Linked DNA regions of Homo sapiens. The protein of the gene in region 4 purifies or fractionates together with the protein of the main gene of each other region. This does not show direct contact. Each region holds a gene or a part of one and is shown on either strand. Other genes may lie near its edges.

Evidence for each region. Proteins that work in one complex are often made in the same cells at the same time.
Region 1: the proteins of WDTC1 (region 4) and GPAT4 purify together in Homo sapiens (co-immunoprecipitation; one large-scale study listed by IntAct). This does not show direct contact.
Region 2: the proteins of WDTC1 (region 4) and UCK2 purify together in Homo sapiens (affinity purification with mass spectrometry; one large-scale study listed by BioGRID and IntAct). This does not show direct contact.
Region 3: the proteins of WDTC1 (region 4) and PHGDH purify together in Homo sapiens (affinity purification with mass spectrometry; one large-scale study listed by BioGRID and IntAct). This does not show direct contact.

The regions. Positions count from the first base shown.
Region 1 is NC_000008.11:41,611,809-41,616,794, reverse strand, and holds part of GPAT4 (glycerol-3-phosphate acyltransferase 4 isoform 1 precursor), read right to left. Parts: intron 4,893-4,986; coding exon 4,803-4,892; intron 4,616-4,802; coding exon 4,522-4,615; intron 3,951-4,521; coding exon 3,835-3,950; intron 2,410-3,834; coding exon 2,354-2,409; intron 1,833-2,353; coding exon 1,747-1,832; intron 1-1,746. UniProt on the Homo sapiens protein: Converts glycerol-3-phosphate to 1-acyl-sn-glycerol-3-phosphate (lysophosphatidic acid or LPA) by incorporating an acyl moiety at the sn-1 position of the glycerol backbone. Active against both saturated and unsaturated long-chain fatty acyl-CoAs.
Region 2 is NC_000001.11:165,825,350-165,831,008, forward strand, and holds the start of UCK2 (uridine-cytidine kinase 2), read left to right. Parts: upstream 1-2,264; 5' UTR 2,265-2,484; coding exon 2,485-2,583; intron 2,584-5,659. UniProt on the Homo sapiens protein: Phosphorylates uridine and cytidine to uridine monophosphate and cytidine monophosphate. Does not phosphorylate deoxyribonucleosides or purine ribonucleosides. Can use ATP or GTP as a phosphate donor.
Region 3 is NC_000001.11:119,714,043-119,719,028, reverse strand, and holds part of PHGDH (D-3-phosphoglycerate dehydrogenase), read right to left. Parts: intron 1-4,986. UniProt on the Homo sapiens protein: Catalyzes the reversible oxidation of 3-phospho-D-glycerate to 3-phosphonooxypyruvate, the first step of the phosphorylated L-serine biosynthesis pathway.
Region 4 is NC_000001.11:27,240,260-27,245,245, forward strand, and holds part of WDTC1 (WD and tetratricopeptide repeats protein 1), read left to right. Parts: intron 1-4,932; exon of another isoform or gene 4,933-4,986. UniProt on the Homo sapiens protein: May function as a substrate receptor for CUL4-DDB1 E3 ubiquitin-protein ligase complex.

The DNA of each region.
Region 1 (4,986 bases), on a different chromosome or scaffold from region 4:
ACATGGGCTCTACTCTGTGGACTAAATGGAAATGTATCTAAAATTTATAAGCATTTTACTTTGGAGAGGAGCGGAAACTCCTCAGGGTTCGTGTTCTGACAGCAGCTAAGAGCCACTGCTTCAGAACTGTGGCCGCCACAGTGTGGTCCCAACTGGCACCATCAATGCCACCCAGAACATGTTAGAATGGAAAATCAGAAGGCCCAGCGGGGTGGCTCAGGCCTATAATCCCAGCACTTTGAGAGGCCAAGGCAGGCGGATCACTTGAGTCCAGGAGTTCTAGATCAGTCTGAGCAACGCGGGGAAACTCCGTCTCTACAAAAATTAAAAAATTAGCCAGGTGTGGTGGTGTGCACCTGTAATCCCAGCTACTTGGGAGGCTGAGACACAAGAATCACCTAAATGTGGGAGGTCAAGGTTGCATGAGTCATGATTGTGCCACTGCACTCCAGCCTGGGTGACAGACTGAGACCCTGCCTCAAAAGAAAAAGAATAGGAAGTTCAGAAACCCTGGGTGTGGGGCCCAGCAATCTGCATTTAAACAATCCCTGCAGGCAATGCTGATGCAGCCTAAGTTCAAGAGCTGCTGTTCTGGAGGCAGCAGTAAGGGCTTCCATCCAGCATCACGGTCACACTGCAAAGCACCTGTCCTCGTTTTGCCAGAATGCAGGATGCAGATGCCAGTCCCCACTCCCACACCCAAGGCAGACTCTGCTAACAGACTATGTTCCTCTTTCCTGCTGTTTCCAGACACAGCATCCTCAGGCTCTGGTGAGTCCTAGCCTGTCAATCAGAGTCCCCTGCAGGCAATATTCATCTGCCATCCCTGGCCTGGTCCTCTGCCTAAATGATAAACAGTGAGTGGCTGGTGAGCATCGGCCTCACCAGGAGCAACACCTCTCCAGTGGCACTGGCAAGGTGAAAAGAAAGTCAGAACCAACTCTACAGAATGCTCTGCAGACAACCCAGTCCCCTACAAAAGAAATTCTAAGTGTGAGCCTGACTCATATCTGCTCACCATTTTATCGAGCTCTCAGGCTGCAGCCTAAATACTTTAACCACACTGAGGATGGCCTGTGTTTTGTAGGTGTCATGATGTGAGGCCTGGTGGATGTGAAGAGGGTAAGAGCGGGGAGGAACAATGTGCAGATGACTAGCTAATCACATCCTATAGCTCTGGGTGTCTGAAGGGTTAGAGGAGCAGTTCCTAAAGGGTCGACGTAGACTAGATAAACTCCCAGGGTCCATCTCATTGTTAGGAGCTGTTGTAGGTCTAAAAGATGACACAACTAAAAGCAGTGAAGCTGTTTCTCCCACTGGGCTGGAGTAATGACCCCCCCCCCAATCCTCATGGCTCCCCCAAAATGCAAAAATCCAGCTTAAAACCACACCACTGTGCCCTGCAATCAGCCAGCTTTCCATGTGGAGGGGCCTACATTCCAGCTAGGTTTATGAAGCAAGGTAATAAGTGAAGGGCTTGCCATTTCCCGAATGGTGGCGGCAGCAGCATGCAGGCGGGAATCTGGCTGTCCCCCATTCCACACTCCCCAGGCCCTTCTAAGGGGTGCTGAGCACTCACCATCCTCCTCCGGCAGCACTTGACCCACGTCAACCCAGCCCCACGCCACTCTGCTGAGGGCATCGACCACAGACTGGTGACCCCAGCTCCTTCCTCTACCTCCTCCTGCTGCACCCCACTCACAGCAGCTCCAGTAATGACAGTGTGTACCATCGGAGGTCTTATACCTTGATAGCAACAGGGTAAACTGTGGCTCCAATTTCAAAACTTCCCTTTTTGAACATCATCACCGATGTATTATTGATGCAGGTTCCTAAAATGCAGGAGACAATAAAATGCTATTTCTGTTGGCCCTTTACCCCAGATATTAGGCGTTTCTTAAAGACTAAGTATAATAGTCAAAATTCTTCTAATGGTTCCTCCAGTAAGATACATCTGTCATCTCCCTAACTTAAAAACAAACACTTAACAGAGACAGGCAAGATGGTGCCTCCGATTCTCTTTCTACAGGACCACTTTCCCTGATTCATACACACAGCCTAGATAAAGCAGAGACGCGCAGTGGCCTTAGGAGGACACCATGAGCTCTGTGAGGAGCTGAAACATTACAGAAGAAATTCCTGCATTTGGGGAGTTCACACTATGGCATTCTTAGTTCAAATTCTGAACTTACCTGAGTTTTTAGTCCTACTTCCAACCTAAAGGGGACCTAACATTATTCAGTGAAAACAGATAACCCCAACAAGGGCTGAGGGCCTTGGTTCCCAGGAAACATCAGCATCACACTCCTGCACTCCCCACAGAAGCCCTTCGTGGCAACCAACCCCTTCTTACCTTCTGGGAAGATGAGGATAGGCAGCTTGCTTTTATCTTGCACATGTTCAGTCAGTCTTTCAAAGAAGAAAATAAAATAAAGGGTCAGACAACCTTATACACATCGTCAAAATATGTTTATAAATAACCTATTTATTTGTGACACTAGTTTCGATTATAAAAAGTTAACAAGCATAACTGTATCCTTTTAAACCCATAATCTAATGCTCATCAAGAAAAAATGTATATGGATAGAGAAAAATCAGGTTACCATTTAATTCACAGAACTGTTCAATTCTGTGCGAACATCGGAGCACCAATGATGCCACTCAACCTGGGGGCCACCTGAAAGAGACACCTGCCACAAGGCCTGGGCATGGCCCCCTCAATAAACCTGTGTCACTAGACTATGTAACAGTTGTGAGGCTGGGCCCAGCCCTGCTGGCTCGATGCTCTGTCCCTGAGATGTAGCAAAGGGAGTTAGGGGAGAGTTCATCTGTCTCTATGGAAGATAATCTCAACTGTCTTTTCTTATGTGTTATTTTTTGAGACAGGGTCTCCCTGTGTTGCCCAGGCTGGAATGCGGTGGTGCAATCATAGCTCACTGAAGTCTCACCCTCCCTGGCTCAAGCGATCCTCCCACGTCAGCCTCCCAAGTAGCTGGGACTACAGAAGCGTACCACCACGCTCAGCTAATTTTTAAATTTTTTGTAGAGATGGGGGTCTTCCTATGTTGCCCAGGCTGGTCTCGAACTCCCGGGCTCTCAAAGCACTGGGATTACAGGCCTGAGCCACCATGTGTGGCTTGGTCTCAACTGTCTTGATGTCTCTGTCTGCTGCAAATCTCTTTGCATTACTTACAGCAGATTCACCTTCTTAAAGTTTGAAAACAGGGCAGTACTTTGTTCCACTGCCTTAGGTTTCTTTTTATTTGTGATAAATGAATTCATTTTGAGGTTTCAAATAGCAGTAAAAATTCGTATTTTGTTTATTATGATGGGTACAATGAATTAAAAAAAGGTTAAGAAACATTATTAACTTGGTAAATAATACTAGGGTTTCTATACTTTTTTTTTTAAGACAGAGTCTCATTCTATCGCCCAGGCTGGAATGCAATGGCGCGATCTCAGCTCACTGCAACCTCTGTCACCCTGGTTCAAACTATTCTCCTGCCTCAGTCTCCCTAGTAGCTGGGATTACAGATGCCCGTCAATAATTTTTGCATTTTTAGTATTTTGTATTTTCACCATGTTGGTCAGGCTAGTCTCAAACTCCTGACCTCAAGTGATCCGCCCACCTCGGCCTCCCAAACTGCTGGGATTACAGGCATGAGCCACCACACCCGGCCACTTTTAAAATTTCATGTTTTAGGAAAAAATTATTATGAAAGCAGTATAGGCTTATGATAGAAGGCACGTAACTGCACTGTGGAGGGATAACTACCCTGAAACCTTTTCAGCATTCTAACTGGCCAAGCAGAACAGCAGTGTTCTGTCCATTACCTCTTAGCCACCAGGTGGCGATCCTTCACTTCCGAGCGCTCAAACCAGACGTGTGGGCAGGCCTTCACCATGGCTCTCTGAATCACACCCATGAGTCCCCCGTGCACTTGACCCACCTAAGCGCAGGCACAGGACTCATTAGTAGTGAAGCCATCTTCACACGAATCTCCCCACTCTAGGAAGAACCACATCTCACAAAATAAGCAGTCCAACTTCTCACTTCTAACGCTTGCCGGCTGAAGGTTGCTCACTGCCAAGAAACCACTACCAAGACTCCCCAAATCTTAAACTTCTCCTTTTAATCAGTAATACTAGAAATAGGTAATTAAAAACATAACTGAAACCCCTAAGACAAAATACTAAAATACTAAAGTAGCGCAATTCCCTGTGTAAAACTGCCCCTCCCTGGGCAGATTCTCAGATGCCCTGGACACAGTCCTTGCCAGCAACTCCCTCTGCCCCTGCTGGTCTGCCTGACTGCCCTTGGCATCCTCTCCAGCCACACTCACCAATCACTCTGCCCAGGGTATCTCCTATCACAGTCCCACAGAGCCCCCACAGTGACAGTAAGGTGGGGGCCTGGCCCACGCATAAATGTGTTTATGTGAAGGGTCCAGGAGCCTCCTAGCCCTGACCACTCTAAAGCAGGAAGTCTTGCCTCAAGAACGCACCGGAAAGAGCTCTTACCATGGCATAATAGCCATCGCTGGCCAAGATGATCACATCGATCGGTGAGGTATGATTGGCCACACAGATGCCACCATTTCTTGGTCTGTTTTCCCTGGGTTTAAAATGTATGCAAAGCAACCAAAATTAGTGTGAAACAGTTCATGTAACACACCTCTCACCTCACATGCTTCATCTGCTCTAACTAAAAGCTCAGAAGTGTCTTCCCATTTGGCTAAGTATAGGTGGGTGGTGTTTCCTGCAGCGCCATCTCCCTTCCTATCAATACAAAGCGCTCTCACCTGTCATGGTAGGTGATGATGGCTGTCAGCGCTCGCACGCAGATCCGGTAACACATTAAGTGAACATGTTTACTCATGAACTCCTTAAACCTGCAATAACAGGACAAGGATTCTGGGTTTTATTTTACATACAGGAAGACAGAAAGAGTTACTGACTTCAACAGCTCAGCAGTCCTTTATAACA
Region 2 (5,659 bases), about 140 Mb from region 4:
TATGATAAAATATTATGGAATAAACACTATAGGAATGACAAGGAAGATGCAGATTTGAGAAAAGTTTATGAAAGACATGGCATTCTTTTTTTTTTTTTAAGAGACAAGTCGATAGAGGAGTGCAATGGCATGATCACAGCTGCAACCTCGAACTCCTGGGCTCAAGTGATCCTCCTGCCTCAGCCTCTGGTGTAGCTGGGACTACAGGTGTGCACTACCATGCCCAGTTAATTTTTGTACTTTTTGTGGAGATGGGGGTCTCATTATGTTGCCCAGGCTGGTCTCAAACTCCTAGCCTCAAGTGATCCTCACTCTTCTGCCTCCCAAAATGTTGGGATTACAGGCATGAGCCACCCCACTGGCCTTTGGCATTCCTTTATCCTCCTCCTCTTCTCCTTAACTACCTAATATCCCCATGCTAACCCTTAGCTGTAGGTTCAACTTCCAAATTCCAATGGGCTATAAAGAGTTCTACAAAAGTCCATGATGACTAATAAATCTATCTAGTAGAGAAAAGACCTTTTGGAGAAGAGGCTAACTCTAGGACCACCTAAAACTCACCCACTCCATAGCTATTTGGTAAGGCACCCCTTTAGGAAACTTCACCCAAATGCCTGCTTCTGGGTACCAGGTAGTGGCCACTCTCCCCATCTTTGTCTCCTGTCTGAGCTGCTACCGAGTTTGATGTTAGATGGTGACATAAAATACAGTAATTCCTAGATATATGCGGAGGGACTGGTCCCAGGACAGCCTACATGTAACCAAATCCACACATGAAGTCCCACAGTCAGTCCTGAGGAAACTGCACAAATATTGTGTTTTCCATCTGCCCTTGGTTTAAAAAAAAAGCTGCATAAAAGTGAACCTCACAGTTTGAACCAGTGTTGTTCAAGTGTCAACTTTAATTTAAAAGTGAAAAAAGTTTGTTTTCTCTGGTATCCTTTTTTTTGTTTTGTTTTGTTTTTGTTTTTGTTTTTTGACACAGGCTCTGGCTCTGCTGACCAGGCTGGAGTGCAGTGGGGAGATCATGGCTCACTGCAGCCTCGATTTCCCTGGCTTGAGAGAAAATTATTTTTTTCAAAATAATCTTCAATTTAAGGTAATTTACTAAGTTTCAAAAGATAATGCTATTGACGTAAATTCTGTTTTAGATTGTAGGCCCCATCAGCTCATTGATACTAGTCCCAAGTTCACAGGAGAAGAGACTGGAAGTTACTAGGCTAGTCCTGCCTCTCTCAGGTGTGTCCCAGCAAAACTTTTCTTTCCAGTTTCAGCGCTTTAGAAACCTTTTCTCTTCAAACACTAATACAGGGCCTAGACTGTACCAGCACTGTTCTGAGAACTTTACATACACTAATTCATTTAATTCTCACAAAAATCCTGGGATGTAATTGCCATTATTATTCCCATTTAACAGATAAGAACACTGAAGCACAGAGAGATTAAGTAACTTGCTCAGGGACCTGGATGTGAATGCAGAAATCTGGCTCCAGAGGTGGAGTCTGAAACTGCCTTTCTAAGTGACTGATTGCCAATCTCTGGAAAACCGTTCAATTGAAGATATTAATGGATCAAAATGTCAGTATGTTTTCAGATACCCTAACTCCATAGGAAGCTCAGTGTATGGGATGAGATACTGTGGTTTAGAAGGGAATTGCTTTTCCAACGGAGGGCACCCTTCAGATAAGCCCCTCAAATTGCCCTTCACTAGAGAGTCGCACGAGGACAGGCCTGCTAAAAAGGATGGCGCTGGGGGGTTTCCAAGACAGGAAATATCTAAAGCCAGCGGCTGACATATTATCTTGGCGAACGGGAGAAGGGAAAAAGAACCCTCATTTTTTGGAAACACAAGTTTTTAGCCTGGATAATGGGTAAATGACATTAACTCTTCGTTCCACACTAATCTTTCAAGCTTGTTCAAATTTTGCTTCTCAAACCTGGGCCATTCCTTCTTATCTAATCTGCCTATTATTTCCTTCAAGCTTTTTATCCCTTCTGAAAATAGGTGGTAGCATACCAAATTAAAATACAGAACAGCCTGTTTCTTTCCCCCAGGGTCCACTAGGGCGCGTCGGAGAAAGGGTTAACCGGGCGGGTGGGAGGGAAGGTCGGGCTCACACCTTTCGCAGAGACCTCGGGCGGCGGCGGGGCCCGGGAGGGGCGGAGGCTGGGGCCAGACGCCTCGCCGCCTCCGCCTCGGCGAATAGCAGCGCGCTGCCCGCCCGGATTGGAGCAGCAGCATCACGCTGACCTCTGCCTGGGATGTAAACCGGACCAGCCGCTGCGGGCAAAGGAAGGCTCTTGGCTCCTTCGGGAAACCCAGCCCCGTCACCGGGCTCCGAGCGGCTCGCAGGCGAGCGACAGCGGCCTCAGCCCCGGCAGCGCCCAGCGGCGGCTGCGGAAAGCGGAGGGAGTCCGACGCGGGCGCGGGCGGGGAGCGTGCGTCCGTTCGCACAGGCAGCGGGAGGAGGGGCGGCGCGAACCATGGCCGGGGACAGCGAGCAGACCCTGCAGAACCACCAGCAGCCCAACGGCGGCGAGCCCTTCCTTATAGGCGTCAGCGGGGGAACAGCTAGCGGCAAGGTACGGCGGGGCCCGGAGCCGCGCTCCCTTCCCGGCTTCTGTCCCTGGGCGGCGCATGTGGCCGGCGGCCGCGGGCCGTGTCAGTTGCGGCAGCCACCGCGTGGCCCGCGCGCCTCCGCTCCCGGCCGCGCTCCAGCGCCGAGTGCGCCCCGCGCGGCCTGGGGGCGCTGCGGCGGGGGCAGGCGAAGACTCGGGCCTTGGGGGTTCCGGGGGTACGCGGCCACGATCGCAGGGCGGGAGTGCTCCTCCGGCTTTTCTCCCCCCGCGTTAATAACTCGTGGCCGGGGTCCTATGGGGGAAGGGCAGGGAAGCGGATGCTTATTGTTTTGCAACTCCAGTGTCGGGGGAGAGGGCTTTCCGCAGGATCCCCCACTAACCCCCGATGGACTCCCTCAAGCCCCGGTCTGGCACAGACGTGCTCGCCCCGCGGCGCAGCCTGGTGCCGAGGGCGGAGCGAGCCGGGAAGCGCGGCCGAGAGGGCGAGGGTGGCGGGAACGCGCGAGGCGGCATCCCGGGGAAGGGGAGCCCAGTGTGGGGCTGCACGCAAGGGCTGGGGATTACAGGGGTTTCCGGGTAAAAGTCTGAGAGCCAAATAGGTGCCGTGACATCAATGAAACGATAATAGTAGGGGCTTCTGTTTTTTAAGGTTATAAGAGGAAACGTGGTCGGCTTCAATGAGAAAGTTGTACTGGCTCCAAGCTCTTCGGTGTCCAGGACGTACGCGTCTTGGATCCACGGAAGGGGGTCATCGTATGGGTGTCTGACCCTCTTAGGAGCCTGTTTCCTTTGTTTTATCCGCAAGGCAAGGAGAGACAAGGGAAATGACTTCCTAGCTTTACCCGGGGTTTTTTCTGCAGGTGGAGAAGGGTGGAGTCCTCCCAGATGGTTCTTTCTTTGCTCCCCTAACAGCCTTTAAGATGTGGCTACTTGTTTTTCCCACCGTTTAACACCCTCCAACTTCATTTGGAGCACGGGTTCCTCAAGGGATCCTGAGAGCTGGGTGCTGGGTGCTGGTTTGGAGAGGCAGGATGATGCTTCTCCCGGCTGGGGAGAGCAGAGCAGGAAGGCTGGTTGGCGCCATGAGGAAAGAGCCACGAGGTTTTAGCTCCCGAACCGACTCGTCAGTAGCCCCTCCTCCATGTTGGTTTTACATTTTTCCCTCCTGGTCTGGACTACTTTAGCGCAAGGAGCCCAGCCAGACACGGCGGCTGGCGCTGCTGGACTTCTTTATTGATGAAGTTGATCTCGTCCGTAGCTCCCGGGGTTAGGAATCGGCCTGCTTTAGGTCCTGAAGTTTCTGTTCTGTGTGCTCCCTGGTTGAAGGCTTTTAAAAAAATTTGTAATTTTTGAGTATGTTCTTTACTATGACTTATACTAGTAATTCAAAGCAAAACCAGAATGCTAGCCCTTCAGGAAGCTTTACCTGTTCTTTTAGAATTATTCTTGCTCTTCTGGCATATTCCTGTTGGATTGGGAGCATTTTTTGTTGTTGTTGTTCATGGCTGTTTTCCCAGCCCTCCTAGCACAATGCCTGCCTGGCATGTAGTGGGGTCCAAATTTTAAGCTGAAGTCCAGTCCTCCTAAAGTGGGGAGGAGGCTTAAACTTGCATATGAGCTTTTAGAAACAAAATGATCTTGGTAATCATCTGAATAATTTAGTTACCACGAGGGTGAAAACTGCGACCCTAAAAGGTGAATAACTCTGTTATTGTTCTTCTTGTGTGTTTCTCAGTCGTCACCTGTTCTAACTTGATAATCAAGCTTTTGGTGTTACTTGGGTAAAGTGAGGGATGGGATAGTGGTGAGCCAATGTGGGAGTAGCTAATTCTCTGCTATTTTTATCCAGGAGGAAGAGTGTAGAAACTCTCAAGAAAGGAAGGGTCCGTTTTTCTGCAGTTTTCAAAGCATGTTGTACATTTTTATTTATTAATTTAATTTTTGAGACAAGGTCTCGCATTTCCACCTAGCCCAGAGTAAGTGGCACTGTCACAGCTCACTGCAGCCTCAGCCTCAACCTGGAGTAACTGGGAGTACAGGCTGGCACTATCATGACTGGCTAATTTTTTTGTTTGTTTGATTTGTTTTGTTTTTGAGACAGGGTCTCACTCTTTTGCCCAGGCTGGAGTGCCGTGGTGAGATCTTGGCTTACTGTACCCTCCACCTGTTGGGCTCAAGTGATCCTCCCACTTCAGCCTCCAGAGTAGCTGAGACTACAGGCTTGCACCATCATGCCCGACTAATTTTTTTTTTTTTGTAGAGAAGGGGTTTTGCCATGTTGCCAGGCTGATCTCAAATGCCTAGACTTAAGTGATCCGCCCGCCTCTGCCTCCCAAAGTGCTGGGATTACAGGTGTGAGCCACTACCTGGGCTGGCTTTTTAATCTTTATTTTTTTTATTATTTTTTTTTTTTGAGACAGAGTCTTGCTCTGTTGCCCAGGCTGGAGTGCAGTGGCATGATCTCGGCTCACTGCAAGCTCCGCCTCCCGGGTTCATGCCATTCTTCTGCCTCAGCCTCCCAAGTAGCTGGGACTACAGGTGCCCGCCACCACGCCTGGCCAATGTTTTTGTATTTTCAGTAAACACGGAGTTTCACTGTGTTAGCCAGGATGGTCTCAATCTCCTGACCTTGTGATCCGCCCGCCTCGGCCTCCCAAAGTGCTGGGATTACAGGTGTGCGCCACCACGCCGGCAATCTTTATTTTTTGTAGAGACTAGGTCACCATGTTGCCCAAGCTTGTTTGTACATTTTTGACATACGAATGATTGATAGTTTGTCATCCTTTAAGATTATTGATATTTTTGTTATTAAAAAAGTCCAAGACTGGGCCTGGTGGCTCACACCTGTAATCCTAGCATTTTGGGAGGCAGAGACAGGAGGATTGCTTGAGCCCGGGAGTTTGAGGCCAGCCTGGGCAACATAGTGAGACCCCATCTGTATAAAATGAAAATTGTGGTGGGTCGAGAAAGTTATTTTGACCTATGTTTAAAACCAGATTCTCAGCTTGGGCAACATGGTGAGACTTGTTCTCTACAAATAATAAAATTATCCAGGTGCAGTGCTGCAGGTCTAGAGGCT
Region 3 (4,986 bases), about 92 Mb from region 4:
GGATTTCCCTGCCTGGACACACTTTACTGACTTTTCAAGGTGCAATAAAGTTATCTTCCAGGAAACATTTGCCAACAACCCTGAACTGTCACTCTCCCTACACCCCACCATTTTTGTTGTGATCACCAATATAATATGTTTCATATCTAGTTGTCCTCTCTTAGACCTGCAGTTTTGGTCTCCTTAGTTATATTTTCTATGCCTAATGCAGGGATTTTATATTAAAACTTTATCTACTCTATACCATATATCCATAGTACCAGCCTCACCAGCACATAAACCATTTATTGAGCACCTGCTGGGTACTAGGCATTACACCAGTTGCTTTACATTATTCTCTTCACAACTCCAAGGAGAAGGGGTATAATCATCCCCAGTTTCCAGATAAAGAAACAGAGGCTTTGAGAGGTAACCTGCCCAAGGTCACTCTTACAGATCAAAAACCAGCCAAGAACTGGAAAGTCATTGCCACTGGCTAACTCTGAGACTGTAACTGAAGAAGAGTTGGTAGACCTGCCAAGATGTCAAGAAGATAGGGCCAGAGCCAAGGCCATGGCCAGTTAGGTGCAAAAACCAAACTGTAAAATCCCTTGGAGAGATTTACTAGTAACAATAGCTACCATTTTTTGAGCAAGTACTTTACATCCAGCACTGTGCTTCACAACAATCCTAAGACAGATATTACAATTATCCCTATAGTACAGACAAGCAAACTGACACTTAAAGAATTTAGAGAACTTGCTGAAGTCACATAGCTAGGATATGGCAGAAGCTGGAATCAAGTCCAAATCTGTTGAGTTCCAACTACCTTCCAAATACAGCATTTAGACACCTAAACCAGGAGAGACATTGCCAGAAATCCTGTGGCTTCTCCAAGATGGCAGAAGCTCCCTAACAAAGGTCCCTGGATCTTCTGGTGACCTGCTCCTCCCAGCCAGCCTGCCTACTGGGGGATAATAGAAATAGGCACAAATGCCTCTGTCGAGAAGAGCAAGTTGCCTGTGGCCTGTAGGCAAGCTCACAGTTGATACTTCACAATGAAGTGTTTTATACACTTCCATTGAATAAATGAATTCAGTGATGAGAGGCCGGTAGAAACCACCCTCATCAGTCCCCCATCCTCACACCTTCACCCTCTTTCCCAAATAACTTTAACACTTCACATGCCTGAAAATTGCTCATCAGAAATCCCTTCCTTTGACTGTGATAAGGAGGCATAAGGTCTACTTCTAAGAGTGCTCAAGGATTTTCAAAAATCTTATTAAAAGAAGTTGAAAAAAAGCAGGAAAAACGTTCAGAAATTGACAAATCAGTCAACAGAACTAAATAGACACTAGACAAACAGAATATGTGAGAATTTAGAAAATAAAAAGCAGAACTCAAATTGATGCGGAAAGGAAGAACTAAACAAGAAATAATGTTATGAAAATTCAAGAAGAAAAATAATAGATTGCTACCTCACTTCAGATTTTTAAAAATCCAGATGAATTAAAGAATTTTTAAAAATATAAGCATTAAAAGAAAATGTCAGGGGATATTTTTATGACTCGGATTGGGAAAACCTTTCATAAGCAAGGCACAAATCTTAGAAACTCTGGAAGAAAATATTGACAAATCCAGTTACATTCAAATTTTAAACTTCTGCATGGAAAAAGATCCCATAAACAAAAGCAAGTAGTGGTCCTGATATGTGGAGAAAACTCCTTTCACCATATGTAACAGAACAAGGATTCATCACCAAAAGTGATAGAATTCCTACAAATCAACTTTTTTTTTTTTTTTTTTTTTTTTTTTTTGAGACAGAGTTTCACTCTTATTGCCCAGGCTGGAGTGCAATGGCGCGATCTTGGCTCACTGCAACCTCCGCCTCCCGGGTTCAAGCGATTCTCCTGCTTCAGCCTCCCGAGTAGCTGGGATTATAGGCATGCACCACAAATCCACTTTTTTAAAGGATAAAGAGCACAATAAAAAATAGATAAATATATAAATAGGCAATGCACAGAAGAACTACAAAGTGGTCACTAGTTTCACTAGTTTATAGACTCTTCAACGCTAGATATCAAGGAAATATAGATTTTTAAATATGATATTTTTGGGCATCATTTTGGCAGAAAGAAAATGAATAATATTCAGCATTGGTGAGCATGGAGGGAAACAGGAGTGTACACTGCATGACCTTTTTGGAGGGCAACTGGGCAGTGGGTGGGTAAGCACATTTTTAGTGGTCATTTCTTTGCAGCCAGCACTGACACCTTAGAAAATTGGTAACACACTGAGGAAACACAACCTCCTTTCAAGTGGTCAGCTCAGGACCAAAAGTCAAAGTTCAACTGACAAGAAGCAGGCATGGAGCAAGAGGAGAAGGGACCACCCAGAGTCATCATCTTATCACCTTGTCTCTCTAGCATCAAGTTCCAGAGCCCACATCTCAGGCCCAGTCCTGCTCCAGAGGCTCTACCAATCACTCCCTTGGGCCTTAAGGGTCCATCCTTCTTCAATGTTCTCTCCAAAGCTGCCAAAATGCTCCCCAAACCTTGCAAACCTGCTCCCCACAGGCAACACTAGCTGGAGAGCATGCAGACTCCCCAAAGTCCACCCATTCTTGTAGCCCCTGAACAAGCACAGAAACAGCACTATTGTTTCTTTCATGAGCATGGACTCTCTGGATGGATCTCCCTTGTAAAGATTTATGCTGTAGTCTCTTCACTTTTCCCTCAAACCAGCCTTCTTTGGTGCCAGGGAAACTAAGAGTCCCCAGTCAGACTCCTACAGATGAGCATCAGGTCTCACCTCTCCCAAGGGCAGAAACTGTCACTCAGGAGACCTTGGTCCCACATTAGAACCAGACATCCCACATCAGTCAGAGTTAATGAGCTTCCAAGGCCTCTTACAACCTCAACTACCCACTCTATCCACTCATTCAATCAGCACATATTCACAGACAGCCTGAATCCAACCTACCTCCTGCTGGACCCTCAAAGCCCCTGCACCCAAGCCCCTTCCCTCCTCACGCCACAACGCACCCCCTTCAAAGACTTTGCCCCAAGCTGTCTGCTCCTGTCCTCTACTTATGGAAACCACAGCCCTAACCAAATGCACCCATCTGCTCACATCCTCTGCAGTTTGCGATTAAAACTTCTCCAGTGTCCAGAGATCCTCCCCTCTCTTTGTCATTCCTTGGGTGAGGAAGCAAGTCTCTCTCTACACAGCACCAAATTCTGATGTTCACTGCCCTCTGCGTGTGGCTTCTGTGTCTGCACTGTGGCGGGAACAGGCACTTCCCACACTTCCTACAAGTCCTCCCGCTCCCCTGTCCTTAGCTGCTGTTCAGCTAGAAAACTGCTTGATTTATGGCTGTTCGAGACAAACTGCTAACTCAGCAATGGGAATCCATTGCCATTCCTCAGGTTCACACATGCTTCCTTTCCCAAGGGGACAAGCTTGGCCTAGGAGGTAATTCTAGCATTGCCATGCCTCTGACTTAAATCATAGGGCAAGACAATGAAACTATCCAGGTCATGTTCCCCAGCTATAGGGAAGGCAGGTCTACCCTGTTTTGCACAAGATGTGTGATCCTGATTAATTTGATGGTTATTTAACTTTTGCAAACTAAATCCTTGTGTAAAGGCTGGGAACTTCCTATTTTAAAGAAATTTGAAAAGAAATTTGGCATGGAAAGATTTATTCCCTTCTTAATCTTTCTTCAAGTACTGATATGAAGGTATGGATGTGCTTCAGTAAATTAAATACCATTACCAGTGTTTAGTTTAGTGGTCCTGACCAGCAATGCTACTTAATGAAACAGAAGAAAATACCAGAATGCATCATATGTAAAAAGAGTAAGTATTATTTCATAAAATTTGTGTGTGTCTGTGTGTACACATATGTATGAGTGTTTAAGTTATGACATAAAACAAATTTCTTATTGTGGGTCACAGTCAAAGTTTAAAAGCCACTGATACATGGTAATATTATTTAAATATTTTCCGGCATATTAGGTATATTTAAGATGTGAGTTCCAAACAAGATGCTTTATTATTTTAAGCCAACGTTTTCCAAACTTTTTTGACTGAGGTTCATTGTAAGAAACACATCTTTGTTGGTGGAGGGGTGGGACAGGGTCTAGCTCTGTTGCCCAGGCTGGATTGCAGTGGCGAGATCATGGCTTACTGCAGCCTCAAACTCCTAGGCTCAAGCGATCCTCCCACTAGAGCACCAGGTTGGGAAGAGTGACAGCAACCAGGGCCTCAGCCCTCCACCCCATCCCCCAGTAGCTGAGACTACAGGCTTGTGCAAGATGCTTAGCTAATGTTCGTATTTTTTGTAGAGACAGGGTTTTGCCATGTTGCCCAGTCTGGTCTCAACCTCCTCAGTTCAAATGATCTGCCTCCTTTGGCCCCTCCCAAAGTGTTGGGATTACAGGCGTGAGCCACCGCGCCCGGCCAAGAAACACATTTTTAAGTTGTAATTTCATACTCACATGCCACACACATACAACTACACAACATAAATGAAACAAAATTCATGAAACAATACTTACAACCTTACTATCTATCTGCATTGCTGTCTGATATTTCCTACTTTGTTTTTTAAAATGCTCGTCATGACCCCTTAAACTGAACTATGACTTGCTCCAAGTCTGAAAAGCACCACTGAAAGGGCAGGGAGGAATGATTGTACTTCCTGACCAGGGGGTGAGTGAGAGGAGACCGCCTGCCCAGAATACAAGGCAGTGGGAACCAAGGCCAGGCCCGGTTCTAGCAACGCTGCCGAAGCTTCCTTCAGCATTAAAGAGACTTCAGTGGGGGAGGGCAGGAGACACTATGCCAGACACCTCTTCATGCAGAATAAAAAGGCATAGTGTAGAAATGAGGACCCTTCAGTGGGCTGACCAAGGAGATTAATTGGCATTCTGAACCAAATGTGTTGCAAAGACAGACAAGAAAGCTGAGCCCTCCCAAACAGTCCAAAAATGCCCAGCAGTCA
Region 4 (4,986 bases):
ACTTTACAAATGAGAAACTGAGACTCTAGACTAAAGTTAAGGAATATGCTGGAGGTTACACAACTAGTAGTGTAGGGCTGATATTTGAACCCATGTCTCCTCCTTAGCTCTGTGACCTAGGGCCAATCATGTATCCTCTCAGAGCTATAGTTTCACCTATAAAATGAGGCTTATTGTAGTACCTACTTTTTAGTGGGTTTTTGAGGACTAAATGATGAAATATATCCTTTTTACTAGACCTCACTGATTGCCCTCAAGAGCCAGGGCTTGGATGTAAAGGAATACCACTTAGTTGGCTTCTTCTGGGTAAATTCAGGCCTATGTGTAACTCTGAGAGTTCTAGGGCCCATTCTTTGAGCTATTAAGTAATAGCTGCTGACTCCTTGAAGGGCTTTGTGGCATTGAAGACTAATACCTTAAAAACTTTTAAGCCTGGGCTGGGCGCAGTGGCTCATGCCTGTAATCCCAGAACTTTGGGAGGCTGAGGTGGGCGGATCACAAGGTCAGGAGTTTGAGACCAGCCTGGCCAAGGTGGTGAAACCCTGTCTCTACTAAAAATACAAAAATTAGCCTGGCGTGGTGGCGGGTGTCTGTAGTCCCAGCTACTCAGGAGGCTGCGGCAGGAGAATCGCATGAACTCAGAAGGTGGAGGTTGCAGTGAGTTGAGATCGCAACACTGTACTCCAGCCTGGGTGACAGTGAGACTCCATCTCAAAAAAAAAAAACAAAAAAACTTTAAGCCTGAATAAGGGGAGGATGCAGTCAAAAGGCCAGAGTGTATAGGAGGCAGTGTCAGAGGCCCTGTGCAAAGAAAATTCTCAGCTACTACTGCAGAGCCAGATTTGAGGGTCACCGTTGGCATTTTTGTATTTATTATCTTCTTTTAGGATACAAGGTCACAACTGCTAGAGCTGTAACAGAGCTCAGTGCCAAGAATAATGACCCTTAATCCTCCGTATAGCCATCTGGGGAGGTATTAACCCCATTTTCTTGGAGATGGGGTGGAGAACAGGATCAGACCTTGCCCAGGGAGCTCTCCAGAGGCTGTTGAGGGCAGTGTTTGGATCAGGACTTTTGTACAATTTTGTCCTTATTCATGACCCCCCAAATTCTATAAAACTGCTTATCCTTGAACCTCTTAGGGGGCCTTCCTGAGAATGGGAGCTAGGCATTCATGGTCAGGGAGCTTCATAGTTGAGGCCTGAGTGTTTGGGTGCTGATGGCCTACCTGGTTCCCTTTTGAGTTACACATCTGGATATAACACTACTGTCACTGAGTTAGAAAGGAAACATTTCTAACTTGAATGGTTTAGTTTTCCTTGACCTTGCAGCTAGTAGTAGAGTTACAGGATGAAACTCCAGAGCCTTCTCTACAAGAGATATTTTGAATTGTGGCAGGATTTGTCAGGATGCAAGTTAAAGACTGCAGATGCTTTTAAATAGTGAGAGAGTATAGCATTATCAAAATATGCTCCCTTTTCTCTGTTTCCTTCCACTATCTTAAGGTAATTGTGAGGCCTAAGAGCAGACAGGAAAATTAGCTATGATCACTGGAAAACAAAGTTCTGAAAACATCCAGAAAAAATTTTCACAAAGCTCAAACAAGTGGCTGGGTGTGATGTCTCACACTGTTTTTTTTTGTTTTTTTTTTTTTGAGAGTCTCGCTGTGTCACCCAAGATGGAGTGCAGTGGTGCAATCTTGGCTCACTGCAGCCTCAGGCTCCTGGGTTCAAGCGATTCTCTTGCCTCAGCCTCCTGAGTAGCTAGGATTACAGGCGTGTGCCATCACGCCTGGCTAATTTTTGTATTTTTAGTAGAGACGGGGTTTTACCATGTTGGCCAGGCTGGTCTCCAACTCCTGACCTCCAGTGATCCTCCTGCCTTGGCCTCCCAAAGTGTTGGGATTACGGGGATGAGCCACCGTGCCTGGCCAGATGGTTCACACTTGTAACCCTAGCACTTTGGGAGGGTGAGATGGGAGGATTGTTTGAGGCCTGGACTTCAAGAACAGCCTGGGCAAAATGATGAGACCCCCATCTCTACAAAAAATAAAAATAAAAGTAGCCAGGCATGGTGATTTGCACCTGTAATCCTAGCTACTCAAGAGGCTGAGGCAGGAGGATCCCTTAAGCCTAGGAGTTCAAAGTTGCAGTAAACTGTGATAGTGCTACATTCCATTCCAGCCTGGGGAACAGAGCTAGACCCTGTCTCTTTTTTTTTTGAGACGGAGACGGAGTTTCGCTCCTGTCGCCCAGGCTGGAGTGCAATGGTGCAATCTCGGCTCACTGCAACCTCTGCCTCCCGGGTTCAAGTGATTCTCCTGCCTCAGCCTCCCGAGTAGCTGGGATAACGGGTATGCACCACCACGCCTGGCTAATTTTTTGTATTTAGTAGAGACAGGGTTTCACCATGTTGGTCAGGCTGGCCTCAAACTCCTGACCTCAGGTGATTCACCCACCTCGGCCTCCCAAAGTGCTGGGATTACAGGCGTGAGCCACCGCACCCAGGCGACCCTGTCTCTTAAAAGCTCAAACAGCAATACGGAGCCCACTGGGCAGGGGAGAAGACATCAAGGTGAGTTTTTATCTAAAGCTTCCCAGAAAGTAAAGCATTGCTTAGAAGCAGCTCTCTTCTGCAGAGAAAACCTCAAGCAGTCCTACATGGGATTATTTAAGCCAGGAGCCTCAAAGATGGCTAAGAAGTTTCCTGAAGATGCTTTGGTGATGAGTCTATCCTACCAGCGAAAGCTTTCCCAGAAACTGTCCTTGTACCAACTTAGTCCATGACCTTGAAATGGCACTCTTTAAATTTGTGTTTGAGATCAGCAGAGTCAAGGCAGCTTAACCCTAAGGAATGGTAAGAGACAAAGTTTCAGCAGCTTCCTGAAATTGTATCAATACTGATATTACAGGTGTGAGCCGCTGCTCCCTGGCCAGTAATTTTTTTTTTTTTTTTTTTTTTTTTTGAGACAATGTCTCACTCTGTCACCCAGGCTGAAGTGCAGTGGCATGATCTCGATCTTGGCTCACTGCAACCTCTGCCTCCTGAGTTCAAGTGATTCTCCTGCCTCAGCCTCCCCAGCAGCTGGGATTACAGGCGCCTGCCACCATGTCCGGCTAATTTTTGTATTTTTAATAGAGACAGGGTTTCACCACATTGGCCAGGCTGGTCTGGAACTCCTGACCTCAAGTGATCTGCCCGCCTTGGCCTCCCAAAGTGCTGGATTACAGGTGTGAGCCACCACACCCGGCCCAGTAATTATTATTTAGTGGCCAATGGCCTGGCCCCTGGAGTCAGACTGTATAGGTTGACTCTCTGTCTAAGAACTGTGTAGCTTTGGCAACTTCACTTTTCTGTGCCTCAGATCCTGCATCTGTAAGATGAGGATAACAATAGCACCTGTCTCATAGGATTATTATGAGGAGTCTGTGAGATGACACTTGTAAACTGTTAGAATGTTCAATAAATATTATTTAATAGGATCAGTGTCAGGCATTTTACATGCAAGCGCTTCTGTTCCTCCTCACCCTGCAGAGGTAGGTATTATCAGATTAGGAAACTAAGGTTTAGAAGTGTCAAGTCAGGGTCTGGCATGGTGACTCATGCCTATAATCCCAACACTTTGGGAGGCTGAGGTGGGCAGATCGCTTGAGCCCAGGAGTTCGAGACCAGCCTGGGCAGCATGGTGAAACCCCATCTCTACAAAAAAAAAAAAAAAAAATGCAAAAATTAGCCAGGTGTGTGTGGGTGGTGCATGCCCGTGGTCCCAACTACTCGGGAGGCTGATGAGATGGGAGGATCTCTTGGGCCCGGGAGGCAGAGGTTGCAGTGAGCTGAGATCATGCTACCACACTCCAGCCTGGGTGACAGAGCCAGACCCTGTCTCAAAACAAATAAAAATTTTTTTAAAAAAATTAAAAAGATGAAGAGACGTAAGAGGTATAGAAAAGAAAAAAAAATTTAAAAGAAATGTCAAGTCAGACAGAAAATAGGTGTCAGAACTGGGATTTGAACCTAAGATCTGTTAGGTCCACAGCTACACTCTTCATTTTATTATGCTCTTTCTTTCTTTTGTTTTGTTTTGTTTTTGAGACAGCGCCTCACTTTGTCACACGGGCTGGAGTGCAGAGGCACAATCATAGCTCAATATAGCCTCAAACTCCTGGGCTCAAGCAATTCTCCCTCCTCCCTCCTGCCTCAGCCTTCCTAGTAGCTAGGACTACAGGAGTGTGCCACCATGCCTGGCTAATTTTTAAAAAACTTTTTTATAGAGACAGGATCTTACTCTGTTGCCCAGACTGCTCTCGACCTCCCGGCCTTCAAGTGATCCTCCTGCCTCGGTCTCCCAAAGCACTGAGATTACAGGCATGAGCTACCACACCTGGCCTTATGTTATTTCCAATGACCTTTATGCATTGAAAGTGAAGTTGAGTCCTTGCTTCGTTGCATCTTTCATCTTTTTTGTAGGATTGCTCCAATAGAACCACTATAAATAGAGTGAAAGGAAACTTGCATACATCTTTGCATAATTCAGAATGTTGAAAGGGGGTCAGTTGTCACCCTGGTTGGGGGCACGTCTCTGCTATGGGAGGTAGCATGTCCAGAGGAAAGAGAATACAGATGTTTTAGGTTCCATCTCTGGTCTGCTGCTAACCAGTAGTGTCTACTTAAAATCTCAGCATAGTGTCATCGGAAGGGGTTTTGTAGCTTATCTCAGAGTCCACCTCTCATTTTACAAACGGCAGAATAGACTGAGAGAGCAAAATGCCTCACTCAGGGTCATACAGCCAGTTAAAGGCAGAGGCTGGCTTGGAGCACAAGACCCTAGATCTCCCAGTCCAGTGCTTCTTCCTCAGTACCATGTAGTATTCTGCTTCACTTCTCCCTTGTTAAATGGGGATTATTATCGTACATGAATATTCATAGCAGCATTATTCATAGCAGCGTTATATTAGCTTTCTAACTTCCTAAAAGGATTGTTGCAAA